2 linked regions of the Homo sapiens genome follow. The protein of the gene in region 2 purifies or fractionates together with the protein of the main gene of each other region. This does not show direct contact. Each region holds a gene or a part of one and is shown on either strand. Other genes may lie near its edges.

Region 1 (7,383 bases), on a different chromosome or scaffold from region 2:
CTGTAGTCCCAGCTACTCGGGAGGCTGAGGCAGGAGAATGGCGTGAACCCAGGAGGTGGAACTTGCAGTGAGGGGAGATCGCGCCACTGCACTCCAGCCTGGGAGACAGAGCGAGACTCCGTCTCAAAAAAAAAAAAAAAAATTATAGTTTGAGAGTTGGCAAATTGGGCTGGGCTCCGCTGGGAGTTCTTGTCTGGCTGATCTTGGCTGGACTTGCTCATGCATCTGCAGTCTCCTGGTGAATCAACAGGGGCTGGCTGTGGTCATCCCACTAGTGCCTCTTCATGTTCCCGCAGCTGGACCCAGATCCCTCCTGATTATAATGGCAGTGCTAAACTAACAGTGTCATTGAGGAGTTATGTTTGGCTGATAGTAAGAGACAGCTCCCCAAATAACAATAGTTTTGGTGAATTGGAGGTTTGTTTTCTCATATGTAACCTAAAAGACAAGAGGTAGGCAGTCCAGGGAAGGAAAGGCAGATCCCAACTGCCATCAGGAACTGAGGCTTCTAAGGCCAGGTGCAGTGGCTCATGCCTGTAATCCCAGCACTTTGGGAGGCCAAGGCGGGCAGATCATGAGGTCAGGAGTTTGAGACTATCCTGGCCAACATGGTGAAACCCCGTCTCTACTAAAAATACAAGAATTAGCCAGGCGTGGTGGCGTGCACCTGTAGTCCCAAGAGAATCGCTTGAACCCAAGAGGTGGAGGTTGCAGTGAGCTGAGATCATGCCGCTGCACTCCAGCCTGGGTGACAGAGCGAGACTCCATCTCAAAAAAAAAAAAAAAAAAAAGAAATTCCAGTTCTGGATTTGACAGTCCTCAGATTGAACCTTGTCTTGGCCAATTTCTAGCTCTGTGACTGGGGCTAGTCTCTTAGTCTCTGCCTCCTGGAGTTGATGAGATGATGTACATAAAATATCTGATAGGCATGTGATGTTGGCTGTGAGCATCTTCATATGCCACTCAAGAACATCATCTTTTGCTCTTGTCTTCCTGTGGTAAAGGTTTTGTTTTCACTTCTAGGGTCTGCTCTTTGCTCTCAATGGTAACAGTGGAATGTTGGTGCTTAACCTTGGAACTGCAGGCCCTCCTCACTGGTGTAAATAACCTCAGAAAGATAAGAAGAAAATGTTCCCACTTCTTCTGTAACAGCAGAAAAATAGATATTAGTCTGCACCATAAAGATGGTTCAGATAAGCAGGTGAAGTTAGAACATCCACAAAAGTATAAAATTGACTCTTCTGTCCTGTGTGGAGAGGGGTAAGAGTATTATAAGCCCATTCTGATTTCTGTTATTTTACTCTTTTTTGATTGCGCCAGTGCAATCCAGCCTGGGCGATGACAAGAGTGAAACTCCATCTCAAAACAAACAAACAAACAAACAAAAACAAACCATAAACACAAACTCATAAACAACATACATCCAGCCACAGACATGATTGCAAATACACACAATTATACATAAAGGCACAGAATACATACAGAACCAGAGCTACACGGTAACACCCTGAAGACCGACTTCTTGTTTTCCTGGGGGAAGGAGGTTGGTGTGTAAGTATGTGGAAAGTGTGGGGTTCAGGGACCACACCTAAGAGCCACCAGAACTATCCCTTTCTATAGAAACAGGCTTCGTGGCGGATGAAGACCCCATCTTGGGGTTCCACCAGATATTCCTACTAAAGAACATCAGCTGGGTGTGGTGGCTCATGCCTGTAATCCCAGCACTTTGGGAAGCTGAGGCGGGTGGATCACTTGAGGTCAGGAGATCGAGACCAGCCTGGCCAACATGGTGAAACCTTGTCTCTACTAAAAATACAAAAATTAGCCAGGCGTGGAGCACGCCTGTAATCCCAGCTACTTGGGAGGCTGAGGTAGGAGAATCACTTGAACCTGGGAGGCGGAGGTTGCAGTGAGCCGAGATCACATCACTGCACTCCAGCCTGGGCGACACAGTGAGACTCCGTCTCAAAAACAAAACAAAACCAAACAAAACAAAACATCAGCGATGCAATGATGCTTGGGTTTGCACCAATGATATGCAGGCTTGCTCTGCACAACTTCAGCTGACCTCCTCTCCACCGGGCCCTCACGCTGCCTCCTCTTCCCTCCTCTTTCCAGAACTATTGCCACTCCTCCAGATATGATGCACAAATGAGCAGGGTCGCAGTGGGAGTGGGCGCAGTGCGCTGATGCCACGGAGGTGTTGTGCATGACGTCTGGACACTAGACTAGCTGCATGTAATGGGAAAAGTTTGTGTTGTACCAGCGCATGCCTTGGAAAGACTTAAGTAATGCAAAAGGTTGTCCTTTAAAAAAAAAAAAAATCTGGCCGGTCGCGGCGGCTCACGCCTGTAATCCCAGCATTTTGGGAGGCCGAGGCAGTCGGATCACGAGGTCAGGAATTCGAGACCAGCCTGGCCAACATGGTGAAACCCCGTCTCTACTAAAAAACAAAAATTAGCCGGGCGTGGTGGAGCACGCCTGTAGTCCCAGCTACTCAGGAGGCTGAGGCAGGAGAATCGCTTGAACCCGGGAGGCAGAGCTTGCAGTGAGCCGACATCGCGCCACTGCACTCCAGCCTGGGCGACAGAGCAAGCCTCCGTCTCAAAAACAACAACAACAACAAAAAAAAACAAAACTACTGACAAGTTGCTCTACTTAACCCAAAGAAAGTGAAGGAGAAAGCGGCTGCCTCACCGCCTAGACATTGAGTCGCCGGATGTTTCAATGCCTCATGATACAATAAAACCACAAAAATTTTCGTAACAGCAGCAGCAACAACAACAACAAAAGAGAAAGAGAGAGGGAAAGAAACAGGCCTCGTGGGATGCGCAGTTTACGTCTCCGCGCAAACCCAAGGACTTCAGAGTGGGTGGGAAACTCCCACAGCGCTTGGGAAACAGTCTGTAGTCTCTGTCCCGATTTTGGCCCTTTTCTGTATGATTTTTATGGGACTCTTCCTGTCACAAAGTGCCAGCCACCTTCCCAATCTTGAGTTGGGCGCGGGATCCGTAAGGTGAAGATCAAGGTGTGCTCATCGCTTGGGCCCGCTGAAAGGTGATTCGCCCCCCACCTGCTGGAACTCCTTGCCCGGGACCACCAATCCCAGCATGCCTTGAGAGCGCGCGAGGGCCTGGGCGGTTCCCAGGAGGTCCGGGTGGGCGCAGGAGAAGCGCGGGCCAGTGAAAGCTCTGAGAGCCCTGTCCCTGTGGACACTGTGTCTTGGGTTCCTTTACTCGGTGTGGCTCAGGGATTACCATTAGGGAGTGGAGTGTGGATTTCTCTTGCCCCGAGCCCTAAATGCCTTGGGGCCCTGCCTTGCACCCCACTGTGCTTTTAGGGGTGTGGCCCTGTGGGCTACATTTCCCAGCGTGCCCTAGGATCGTGGTCCTGACCTTTTCACCGCAAATTTCATTTCCCAGCATGCCCTGCGAGGTCACCCAGGGAAGCTTGGAAGTGGACTGTCTTTCATGGCTTCTAGGTTGCGGACTCAGTTTCCCATGGTGCCCTGGTGAACCCATTCATTCATTCATTCCAAAAATATTTGCGATCAGGTTCTCTCAGGTTCTGTTCTAAGAACCGAGGACAAGTAGTGCACAGAAGACAAAAGATCCCGCTCTCGTGGAGCTTATTTCTAGTTAAGGGGTCAGGAAAAAAACCAAAATAAATAAAACCCAGCTGGGCATGGTGGCTTACGCTCGTCATCCCAGCAGGATTACAGGCCGAGGCGGGCGGATCATGAGGTCAAGAGATCAAGACCATCATGGCCAACATGGTGAAATCCCGTCTCTACTAAAAATATAAAAATTAGCAGGGCGGGGTGGCGCGCGCCTGTTATCCCAGCTACTCTGGGGACTGAGCCAGAATTGCTTGAACCTGGGAAGCGGAGGTTGCAGCGAGCCGATATCGCGCCACTGAACTCCAGCGTGGCGACAGAGCGAGACTCCGTCTCAAAACAAAGAAAACAAAATAAAACAACAATAACAAAACAACTCTGCCTCTCCCCGCACTCCCTCCCACGCGGCTGTCCAGTCGAATTCCTAACTGCCCCGGGGCAGTCTGCTATTCATCCCCTTTACCCGGTGCTACACACTTCCTAGTATGCCGTGGGGCACCCCTCCGGCCTGTAGACTCCATTTCCCAGCATTCCCCGGAGGAGGCCCTCATCTGGCGATTTCCACTGGGCGCCTCGGAGCTGCGGACTTCCCAGTGTGCATCGGGGCACAGCGACTCCTGGAAGTGGCCAAGGGCCACTTCTGCTAATGGACTCCATTTCCCAGCGCTCCCCGCGACCTGCCCAGCACACCCTGGGGCAGCGCCGTGACGTCAGCACGCCGGGCGGGGACCGGGAGATCCTTGGGGCGGTGGGGGGCCAGCGGCAGTTCCCGGCGGCCCCCGGGGCGGGCGGGCGGGCGGGTGGTGGCGGCGGTTGGGGCTCGGCGCTCGCTCGCTCGCTGGGCGGGCGGGCGGTGCGATGTCCGGAGAGGATGGCCCGGCGGCTGGCCCGGGGGCGGCGGCGGCGGCTGCCCGGGAGCGGCGACGGGAGCAGCTGCGGCAGTGGGGGGCGCGGGCGGGCGCCGAGCCTGGCCCCGGAGAGCGCCGCGCCCGCACCGTCCGCTTCGAGCGCGCCGCCGAGTTCCTGGCGGCCTGTGCGGGCGGCGACCTGGACGAGGCGCGTCTGATGCTGCGCGCCGCCGACCCTGGCCCCGGCGCCGAGCTCGACCCCGCCGCGCCGCCGCCCGCCCGCGCCGTGCTGGACTCCACCAACGCCGACGGTATCAGCGCCCTGCACCAGGTCAGCGCCCCCCGCCCGGCGTCTCCCGGGGCCAGGTCCACCCTCTGCTGCGCCACCTGGGGCATCCTCCTTCCCCGTTGCCAGTCTCGATCCGCCCCGTCGTTCCTGGCCCTGGGCTTTGCCACCCTATGCTGACACCCCGTCCCAGTCCCCCTTACCATTCCCCTTCGACCACCCCACTTCCGAATTGGAGCCGCTTCAACTGGCCCTGGGCTTAGCCACTCTGTGCTGACCACTCTGCCCCAGGCCTCCTTACCATTCCCCTTCGACCTACTCTCTTCCGCATTGGAGTCGCTTTAACTGGCCCTGGCTTTGGCAGCCTGTGCTGACCCATGCAGTCCTCCTTACCATCCCTCCCTCGACTTCCCCTCTTCCGATGTTGAGCCCCTCCAGCCGGTCCTGGACTTTGTCTCCTTCCCTGCCCTGCCCTCTCCTGAACCTGAGCCAGCTCCCATAGCTCAGTCTGGTCTATCTGCCTGGCCCTGGCCATTGTCACTTTGCGCTGCCCTCCTCTCGCCCCCGAGTGCCCTTGCTGTGCCGCCGGAACTCTGCCCTCTAACGCTGCCGTCTCTCTCCTGAGTCCGGACCACTTTGAGCTCTACTGGCTTCTGCGCCGCCTCTGGCCCACTGTTTCCCCTTCCCAGGCAGGTCCTGCTTTCTCTGACCTGCATTCTCTCCCCTGGGCCTGTGCCGCTTTCTGTCTGCAGCTTGTGGCCTGGGTCACCTCTACGGCTGGCCCAGATCCTTCCCTGCCGCCTCCTTCAGGTTCCGTCTTCCTCCACTCCCTCTTCCCCTTGCTCTCTGCTGTGTTGCTGCCCAAGGATGCTCTTTCCGGAGCACTTCCTTCTCGGCGCTGCACCACGTGATGTCCTCTGAGCGGATCCTCCCCGTGTCTGGGTCCTCTCCGGGCATCTCTCCTCCCTCACCCAACCCCATGCCGTCTTCACTCGCTGGGTTCCCTTTTCCTTCTCCTTCTGGGGCCTGTGCCATCTCTCGTTTCTTAGGATGGCCTTCTCCGACGGATGTCTCCCTTGCGTCCCGCCTCCCCTTCTTGTAGGCCTGCATCATCACCGTTTTTCTGGACAACCCCAAAGTACCCCGTCTCCCTGGCTTTAGCCACCTCTCCATCCTCTTGCTTTCTTTGCCTGGACACCCCGTTCTCCTGTGGATTCGGGTCACCTCTCACTCCTTTCATTTGGGCAGCTCCCCTACCCCCCTTACCTCTCTAGTCTGTGCTAGCTCTTCCAGCCCCCTGTCATGGCATCTTCCAGGGGTCCGAGAGCTCAGCTAGTCTTCTTCCTCCAACCCGGGCCCCTATGTCCACTTCAGGACAGCATGTTTGCTGCCTCCAGGGATCCTGTGTCCCCGAGCTGGGACCACCTTATATTCCCAGGGCCGGTTAATGTGGCTCTGGTTCTGGGTACTTTTATCTGTCCCCTCCACCCCACAGTGGGGCCACTAGGGACAGGATTGGTGACAGAAAAGCCCCATCCTTAGGCCTCCTCCTTCCTAGTCTCCTGATATTGGGTCTAACCCCCACCTCCTGTTAGGCAGATTCCTTATCTGGTGACACACCCCCATTTCCTGGAGCCATCTCTCTCCTTGCCAGAACCTCTAAGGTTTGCTTACGATGGAGCCAGAGAGGATCCTGGGAGGGAGAGCTTGGCAGGGGGTGGGAGGGAAGGGGGGGATGCGTGACCTGCCCGGTTCTCAGTGGCCACCCTGCGCTACCCTCTCCCAGAACCTGAGCTGCTCTGACGCGGCCGTCTGGTGCGTTTCACTGATCCTGGTGCTGCAGCTTCCTTACACTTCCCAAGAGGAGAAGCAGTTTGGAAAAACAAAATCAGAATAAGTTGGTCCTGAGTTCTAACTTTGGCTCTTCACCTTTCTAGTCCCCAATTTATATTGTTCCTCCGTGCGTCAGTTTTACCTGTGAGATAAGGCCAGTAGCCAGCCCCGTCCTGGCAGGGCTGTGGTGAGGAGGGGGGTGTCCGTGTGGAAAACTCCCTTTGTGAGAATGGTGCGTCCTAGGTGTTCACCAGGTCGTGGCCGCCTCTACTCCCTTTCTCTTTCTCCATCCTTCTTTCCTTAAAGAGTCCCCAGTGCTATCTGGGACATATTCCTCCGCCCAGAGCAGGGTCCCGCTTCCCTAAGGCCCTGCTCTGGGCTTCTGGGTTTGAGTCCTTGGCAAGCCCAGGAGAGGCGCTCAGGCTTCCCTGTCCCCCTTCCTCGTCCACCATCTCATGCCCCTGGCTCTCCTGCCCCTTCCCTACAGGGGTTCCTGGCTCTGCTCTTCAGACTGAGCCCCGTTCCCCTGCATCCCCGTTCCCCTGCATCCCCCTTCCCCTGCATCCCCCAGAGGCCCCAGGCCACCTACTTGGCCTGGACCCCACGAGAGGCCACCCCAGCCCTGTCTACCAGGCTGCCTTTTGGGTGGATTCTCCTCCAACTGTGGGGTGACTGCTTGGCAAACTCACTCTTCGGGGTATCCCAGGAGGCCTGGAGCATTGGGGTGGGCTGGGGTTCAGAGAGGAGGGATTCCCTTCTCAGGTTACGTGGCCAAGAAGCAGGGGAGCTGGGTTTGGGTC
Region 2 (7,021 bases):
CATTCTCTGTAGCATAAGTGAGCTTGTTGGCTAAACGGGGTGTTTGTGTATTGCTGTTTTCCCTCTGCAGTGTTTGAGAACAAAGATAAGATTGTGATCATCATGGAATATGCCAGCAAAGGGGAGCTGTACGATTACATCAGTGAGCGGCGACGCCTCAGTGAGAGGGAGACCCGGCACTTCTTCCGGCAGATCGTCTCTGCTGTGCACTATTGTCACAAGGTATGGCTGCGCCTGGCCCGCAGCTTTGGCCGTAGATGGTTTTTATGGCACTGCATGATTTTTTTCCTATTATAAAAGTGATATCTGTTCATGGGAGCATGTATGGAGAATTTATGAACTAGAAAGAAGAAAATTACCATCACCCGTGATTCTGGAATCCAGGGATAATCTATTTTTGACATTTTTGCTTGTTTCCTTTCAGTCTTCTTCCTCCTCCTTCTCACATTTATTTTTTTATGTAAACTTTTAATTTTGAATAATTTTAGATTTACAGGAAAGTTTCAAAGGTAGTACAGAGAGTTCCTATCTATGCCTTTCTTAGTTTACCCTAATATTAACATCTTACATTTCTGTGGTACATTTGTCAAAATGGAGACACCAATGACCTTTTTCTGTTCCAGCATCCAATCTAGGGTACCACGGTGGATTCATTTTTACATCGTTTGTGTCATGCTTTTTTACTTAATACTTTAATCTAAATATTTTCCTATATTATTAAAAATTCTTTGTAATTCTTGATTGTTGGACATTGAGACTGTTTCTAATTTCTGATTATGACAAATAGTGATCAGTATCTTTATATATGAATATTTTCCTCTCATGTGAATAATTTACTTAAGAGAGATTCCAGAAGTAGAATTACTAGGAGAAATGTTCTTGAAACCTTTCTATGCTCTTGGTGCCTTTTCTTGCATAGGTTACCTACATGCACGGATGTGCTCAGAAGATGGCCGCAGACAGGCTCATGCCTATAATCCAAGCTAGTTGGGAGGCTGAGGGGGGAGGATTGCTTGAGCCCAGGAGTTCAAGACCAGCCAGGGCAACATAGCAAGATCCATCTTTAAAATTTTTTTTAAAAAGTAGCCAGGCATGAGGTTGCGCACCTGTAGTCCCAGCTGTTTGGGAGGCTGAGACAGGAGGATCCCTTGAGCACAGCAGTTTGGGGCTGTAGTGAGCTATGATGGTGCCACTGCTCTCCAGCCTGGATGACAAAGTGAGACCCCATCTCCAAAATAATAATAATAACAATAATAATATAGCCACAGTAGAGCCACTCTTGGTTTCTGGAAAAGGCATAAAGTACACAGATAACTACAAGCCATGTCTCAGCCATTATTGTTATTCATCACTTTGGCCATGAATTTCATCTCATTCAGACTTTCTCCAGATCTGTCACACCCTAAACAGTCATTTACTTTGAGGATAACGTGACTTGAGTCCAACAGGGCATCCAAAACAGAGTCAACTTCTTCATATAAATGATCTCAACATGGGGCCTCCTGGTTTGTTAAATATTATGTTTAATTGAGAGTGGCTCTGTAAGTAATTAGAGAACAGTTACTCAAATCTAAAACCCTTAACTCATGTGAACATTATTTGACCTCTCTTTGTTGACTCAAAATGTGCTCATGATTTGAATCGTATAATATTTTGTATTTCATCATGAGGTATCATTGTAAATCACCACAGAGGTGATATTTTTGATATTGGAAGTGTGTGAACACTTGGATTCTGTATGAATGAGGCTTTATTAGACTCATTCCATCTTATTACAAAAACCAGGAATGCAGCAATGTAAACCAAACTGCTCCTGATGTTTAAAATTAATGGAATCAGGTGTCTTGTAGTCCACATCTTTCTTCTAACAGACTCGGTTTTGTGCATTTCTGAATTCAGAAGACCTCATTGCAGGCTTGAATTAGAAAAAGATTAGTAGAAATACATGTTTTCATTTCTCCCTCTGAGCAGTGCTTTTGGAGATATTAAGAATGGTCAAATGAAAAGGAAAATAAACAAGAAAGAACCACCCATAAACATGCCTGTTGGTTTGCTCAAAAGAGCAGCTTCGATTGCAGATGTCCTTTATGCTGAATGATGTTCAGAATCATTCAATGTCCCCTGTTACTTGTCCACTCACCCCAAAATAGCCAGTTCTTTCGGGCCCACTGCTCTTCCCATGCCCACCCACCCCCTAAAAAGATAATCGGGTCTTAAAAAAGAATGAAGAAGGCTAGTGTTTACTGCTGTGTAGACCGACAGCCTATTGGCTGATGACTGCTTTTCACGTTTCAGCTGGCTGGCTGCTGGTCATTGAAGTTCAGCCTCCAGCCTTGCCAGAGTTTGCCTGAATGGAAAGGTCAGGCAGGATGGCAGCCACCTGCTTTGGTCAGGCCAGTGGTCCCAGTCTCATTGGTCTGCTCTCATGCTTCATCTTTCACCCAGCCCTGAGTCCTGCTGAGCAGAGAGGGACTTTCTGAGTCTTCTCTCCAGGTTGCTTAGGAAATGTTATCCTCAGGACAGATCAAAACAGGTCGGAATAGATTGAGCCAGATGTCTTTCCAGCGTTGAGTAGGCAGGCAGGCACACAGACAGACAGATGAGGAGTGCCTGTGAGCCCCACAATCTTGAGTCCCCAGTAGAGAAATCTGCTTCTTCCCTGGGAATCCCGTCCAGACAGACATTGTTTGCTGCTGCCTGGGATTATATTGCTTTCACACAGTGGAATTACATTCCGACAAAGAATCCCCCTGCTGTTTTACAGGCTCTGGGGGAGAACAGATTCCAGTCATTTTTCCCTTAACCACACAGCAAGTGACTAATGCTCTCCTGTCGCTGGTTGGTCGCTGGCGGGGGAGCGTCAAGACAGTGAGAGCAGCCTGAAGGATGGAGGTGAAGACCACCGGGCTGGTGCATTTCTTTAATCTGTCAGACATTTCCCTTTGCTCACCCTCCTCCTTCCTCTTTCTCTCTTGTTCTCATCCCAGCCGCTCCCATTCAATTCCCTCTTTGTCTTCTCATTTCAGAACGGTGTGGTCCACCGGGACTTGAAGCTGGAAAATATACTGCTCGATGACAACTGCAATATTAAGGTAAAGCCCTTGCGTCGTCGATTGATATGCAGGGCCTGGGTCTTGCAGCCGGATGGAGGCTTAACCTGCTCCAAGCCGCAGCCTGGAAATAAGGCAGCCACTTCCTACCTGGCAGGCTGGTGGGGAAGAGTCTCTTTGCTTGAGCTCCAAGTCCAGTTCAAACAATTAAATGCGACAAGCAGTTATTGATCTCCTACTATATGCCGGGCATTGTTCTTCCTCCCTGGGTAAGATGAGATGACTGAGATACAGTGTCTCTCCTCAGGAAGCTCATAGTCTAAAATCATCACCATAACAATACTTTTAGCAACCAATACATATTTCATATGTATTTTATATTTTTGCCTGCTATCACTTAAATTCAATCTTTACAACAACTCTACAAGGTAGGTACTGTTATTTACATAATTTCACAGATAGGGAAACTGAGGCACAGAAAAACTAAGTAATTTGCCCAAGGTAATCCAGTGGTAAAGAGTAGAGTTGGGATTTGAACCCATGTCTGTCTGATTTCACGAGCCCAAATTCAAGTCGCTTTGCTTGATTTGCTAGCAGGATCCTAAATTATTTTAGAGCTGGAACTCTTTGCCTGGCTATTTCTTTGTCACTCTCCACCCTGTCTCCTACTTCTCCCTCTCCACCTTCCCACCCCTGAAACCAGCCATAGACCTGGGAAGCTGACTAAAATGGGGATGGTGCTTGCTGTTGGGAAATAGCAAGTGCTGGAGTTTACTTGCACGGAGAGTATTATTGCTGGCTGCTGCTGGAGCTGGAGAAAGTTCTCCTGGCCCACAGGGTTCAAGTGCCTCCCAGGGAGCCCTCTGAATGTCCTTTTGACCACGTCTACAAAATAAGCAAATACGGTTTCAAAATAAACGGAGCTCGCTGCATGGGTTTCATTATGAAACGGCCTTAGTACTCCCGGCACCAGCAGGAGCCCTCCAATTGGCCGCTGGTGACGTTAGTGGCTTATCCCTGGTCCCTGGGCAAAGCATGGGAATGATTTTTTTGTTGTTGCTGCTATCAGTGGAGGAGCGTGTGATGAGACTTGTTTCCTTGCTTGGAAGGATGGAGTTGCTTTGGTGTTGGGATTCTCTGTACAGATCATGGCAGCAACCATTAGTCACCATCATCCTTTGAGAGGCCCCTGGAAGCCATGACCCAGTGACCTCTTGCTCTTGCAGAGTGTTTGACCGTAGTCACATGTAGTCTATAGAATAAGCAGGAAATAGTTGGTCAAAGTAGTTCTCCATGGGAATAGGAAGTGGAATCGCAGGGTCTATTTCTGGCAAAGTGGTTGGATTATTCTAGAAGGAGCACTGGTTGTAGAGTTAGGAAATTCCGGGCTGTATGGCTTACTAGCTTCTTGACACTGGGAAAACCACTTAACCCTGTTTCCTCAGCTGTAAAACGGGGTAACAGTACTACTCACAGGCCTGCTTAGAGCAGTGAATGAGACACTCTGTGTTTAGTTTTGTAAACTGCTAAGCACTCGTGTCCAAATGAGTCAAAGTTAAAAGCAGTGGCTTTGGAGTTAGATATTTCAACCCTGCCCCTTAGTAATGGCAGGATTTGGGGTAAGTTTCTTGATGATTTAGGCTTTAGTTTCCTCATCTGTCAAGAGTTGCCAGTTCCTGTCTCTGCAGATTATTGTTTATTTGTTCATTTTTGTTTCAAGGAGTATTTTCTGAACTGTTACTGTGTGCAATGCCCTGTGCCCAGTCCTGGAGAGTCAATAATAAACGTGAAGATTTTAGACAATACTACAATCAAAGCAATTCATGCTTAACTGTTACTATACTGGGAGCCTTCTTAAGTGGCTGGCCACTGGAGAGGGAATTGAACCGGAAGTCAGCTGCTCTGAAGGTGCCTACCTAGGTCCTGGGGAGTGGTGGTCAGGCCATGGCTGAAAAATTGGTCTTGGTTTGAGGGCCACCACATTTTTCTAAGGGTTTGTGTCATCAACCTTATTGACTTCCTCTCCAGATCCTTCCTGCCACCTGCCCCCAGAGCTCTCAAAACTAAATGTCATCTTTACAAGGCCTGGAATGTAAGCCTCTTGCCTAGGGGTTGGGTTCTATGGTGCAGTGTGACCTCTTGGTCCCATGATGTATTCCCAGAAGTGATAAGACACATAGCTTTCTATGAAATCATGTAATTCCCTAATGGAGGAAAAGAATGATTAGAATTCTGAAAGCAATTGTGCAGGGAAACAGTGAGGCAGGAGCCCAGGAGAATGGCTTCATTTGTGTAAGCAAAAGGGCAATGATGTTGGGCCTGACAGTTCCCCTGCACCAAGTTCTTCAACCTAGGGTGCCTGTGCATGATGGAGGGAAAGAGCACACACACAAAGCAGTATTATCAATTAAGGCTTAGGCATATACCTTTCCTTAAGAATTTCTAATCCTGGCATTTCCCAAGGTAAAGCACGGGTGTGCATGCACACATACGTCCCAAAGAGAAACCAGATCTTCCCATTATCAACACTTTTAAATTCCTTTCCTCTTTGTTCAAGGAATCCTACTTAGGTCTGAGAATCCTACATCTTTAAAGAACTTTGGGAGTCATTTTTCCAACCCCTTGTTTTAATGATTAGACCCAGAAAGTCTAGAGGATAATGCCCACGATCACACAGTGAATCAGTCTGGACTAAATTATTGTGTCTTTGCTTCCCCAGAGTGTAGACTAGTGCTTGGCACACAGTAGGTACTTCAAAATGGTTTGATTTTGGAATAAAGGAATGATGAGCCAGGATTAGAACTCATGTGTTTGACTTCCAGGCAAATTATCTTTTCATCATCTCCCATCCACTTCCAAGGTTTTAAAAAAATGTGATTCAGCTGGTCTTGATTTGTCTTCTGGTGGTATATTCTCAACTCTTCCTGACTCAGCATTTTGCTGAAACATATTTAGAAAGGACCCATGCTGGCAAAGGCAGGCAGATACATGGCCACAAGCCGGCCTCTGTGCTCAAGAGAGCCCCTGCCATCCGTGTCTGGACCTGGGGGACCACAGACACACGAGCCACGAACCAGCGGGACATGAGCAGCAAGATCCTCTCTTGGAGCCCCCTCTGGTGCTTCTCTAAATGTGGATCCATTTTCCACGTTTCAAGGGTGGAGGACTTTGGCCTAGGAAGCCTATATAAATGCTACTGGTTTAAACTTGTCACATGTCGCTGCAGTGGTGGGGAGAGCCATGTAGCTCATTCCTCTCCCCTTCCCTGCCTGATGTTGATTTGCAGAGCACACATCTGGCATTGGAAATTATTTATCTGGCACTGCGAGAGGGTGTGGTTTCTAAAAATATTCACACAGTCGGTCAGCAGAAAGAATGAGAGCAATGTGCTGCTTTGGGCTGCATTCCGTACTCTGGAAGCATGTCTACTAAAATAGACACCAAGCACAGCACTAATTTGCAATTAATAAAAAACGGGCCAAATTCACAGCCCACTCTCTGGGAGAATGGAATGCTGACAATTCCCATAGAAGGCTCCTGTAAAAATGTCTTACAATGAGAAGAGGTCCAGGCACCAGGGTCAGCCGACCTCCTCCAAGAGGGCTGGGAATCTGGTGAGCTCCCAGGGCTCAGAGTAGAGGGGCATAGGGGAAATGGCCTGCTGCCCCTTAAGACAATGGAAGCGCGGCTGCTGTGGATAAGAAAAGAAGCTTTGAATGGCCAGGGCCAAGATGAGATAGAAACCTCTGAAGCTTAATAAGACCAAGTGGGGCAGCTGAGAGTCAGCCTCTGGGCTTTGATGATATGAATGGGAGAGCTCTGTGTTCATGCATGAATTAATCAATTCATGTGTTGTGTGTATATATCCACGCATACCTGCATTCACTCATCCATTCCTGCATTTATTCACTGAGGAATTGAACGTCTTTTCTGGGCAATATTTATTTGATCAGAAATATTCATTAAGGTCC

The links. The genes of interacting proteins can lie anywhere in the genome.
Region 1: the proteins of NUAK1 (region 2) and PPP1R12C purify together in Homo sapiens (affinity purification with mass spectrometry; 2 studies listed by BioGRID and IntAct, with this or other methods). This does not show direct contact.

Annotation. Positions count from the first base shown.
Region 1 is NC_000019.10:55,114,635-55,122,017, reverse strand, and holds the start of PPP1R12C (protein phosphatase 1 regulatory subunit 12C), read left to right. Parts: upstream 1-4,380; 5' UTR 4,381-4,474; coding exon 4,475-4,795; intron 4,796-7,383. UniProt on the Homo sapiens protein: Regulates myosin phosphatase activity.
Region 2 is NC_000012.12:106,079,935-106,086,955, reverse strand, and holds part of NUAK1 (NUAK family SNF1-like kinase 1), read left to right. Parts: intron 1-70; coding exon 71-222; intron 223-3,026; coding exon 3,027-3,092; intron 3,093-7,021. UniProt on the Homo sapiens protein: Serine/threonine-protein kinase involved in various processes such as cell adhesion, regulation of cell ploidy and senescence, cell proliferation and tumor progression. Phosphorylates ATM, CASP6, LATS1, PPP1R12A and p53/TP53.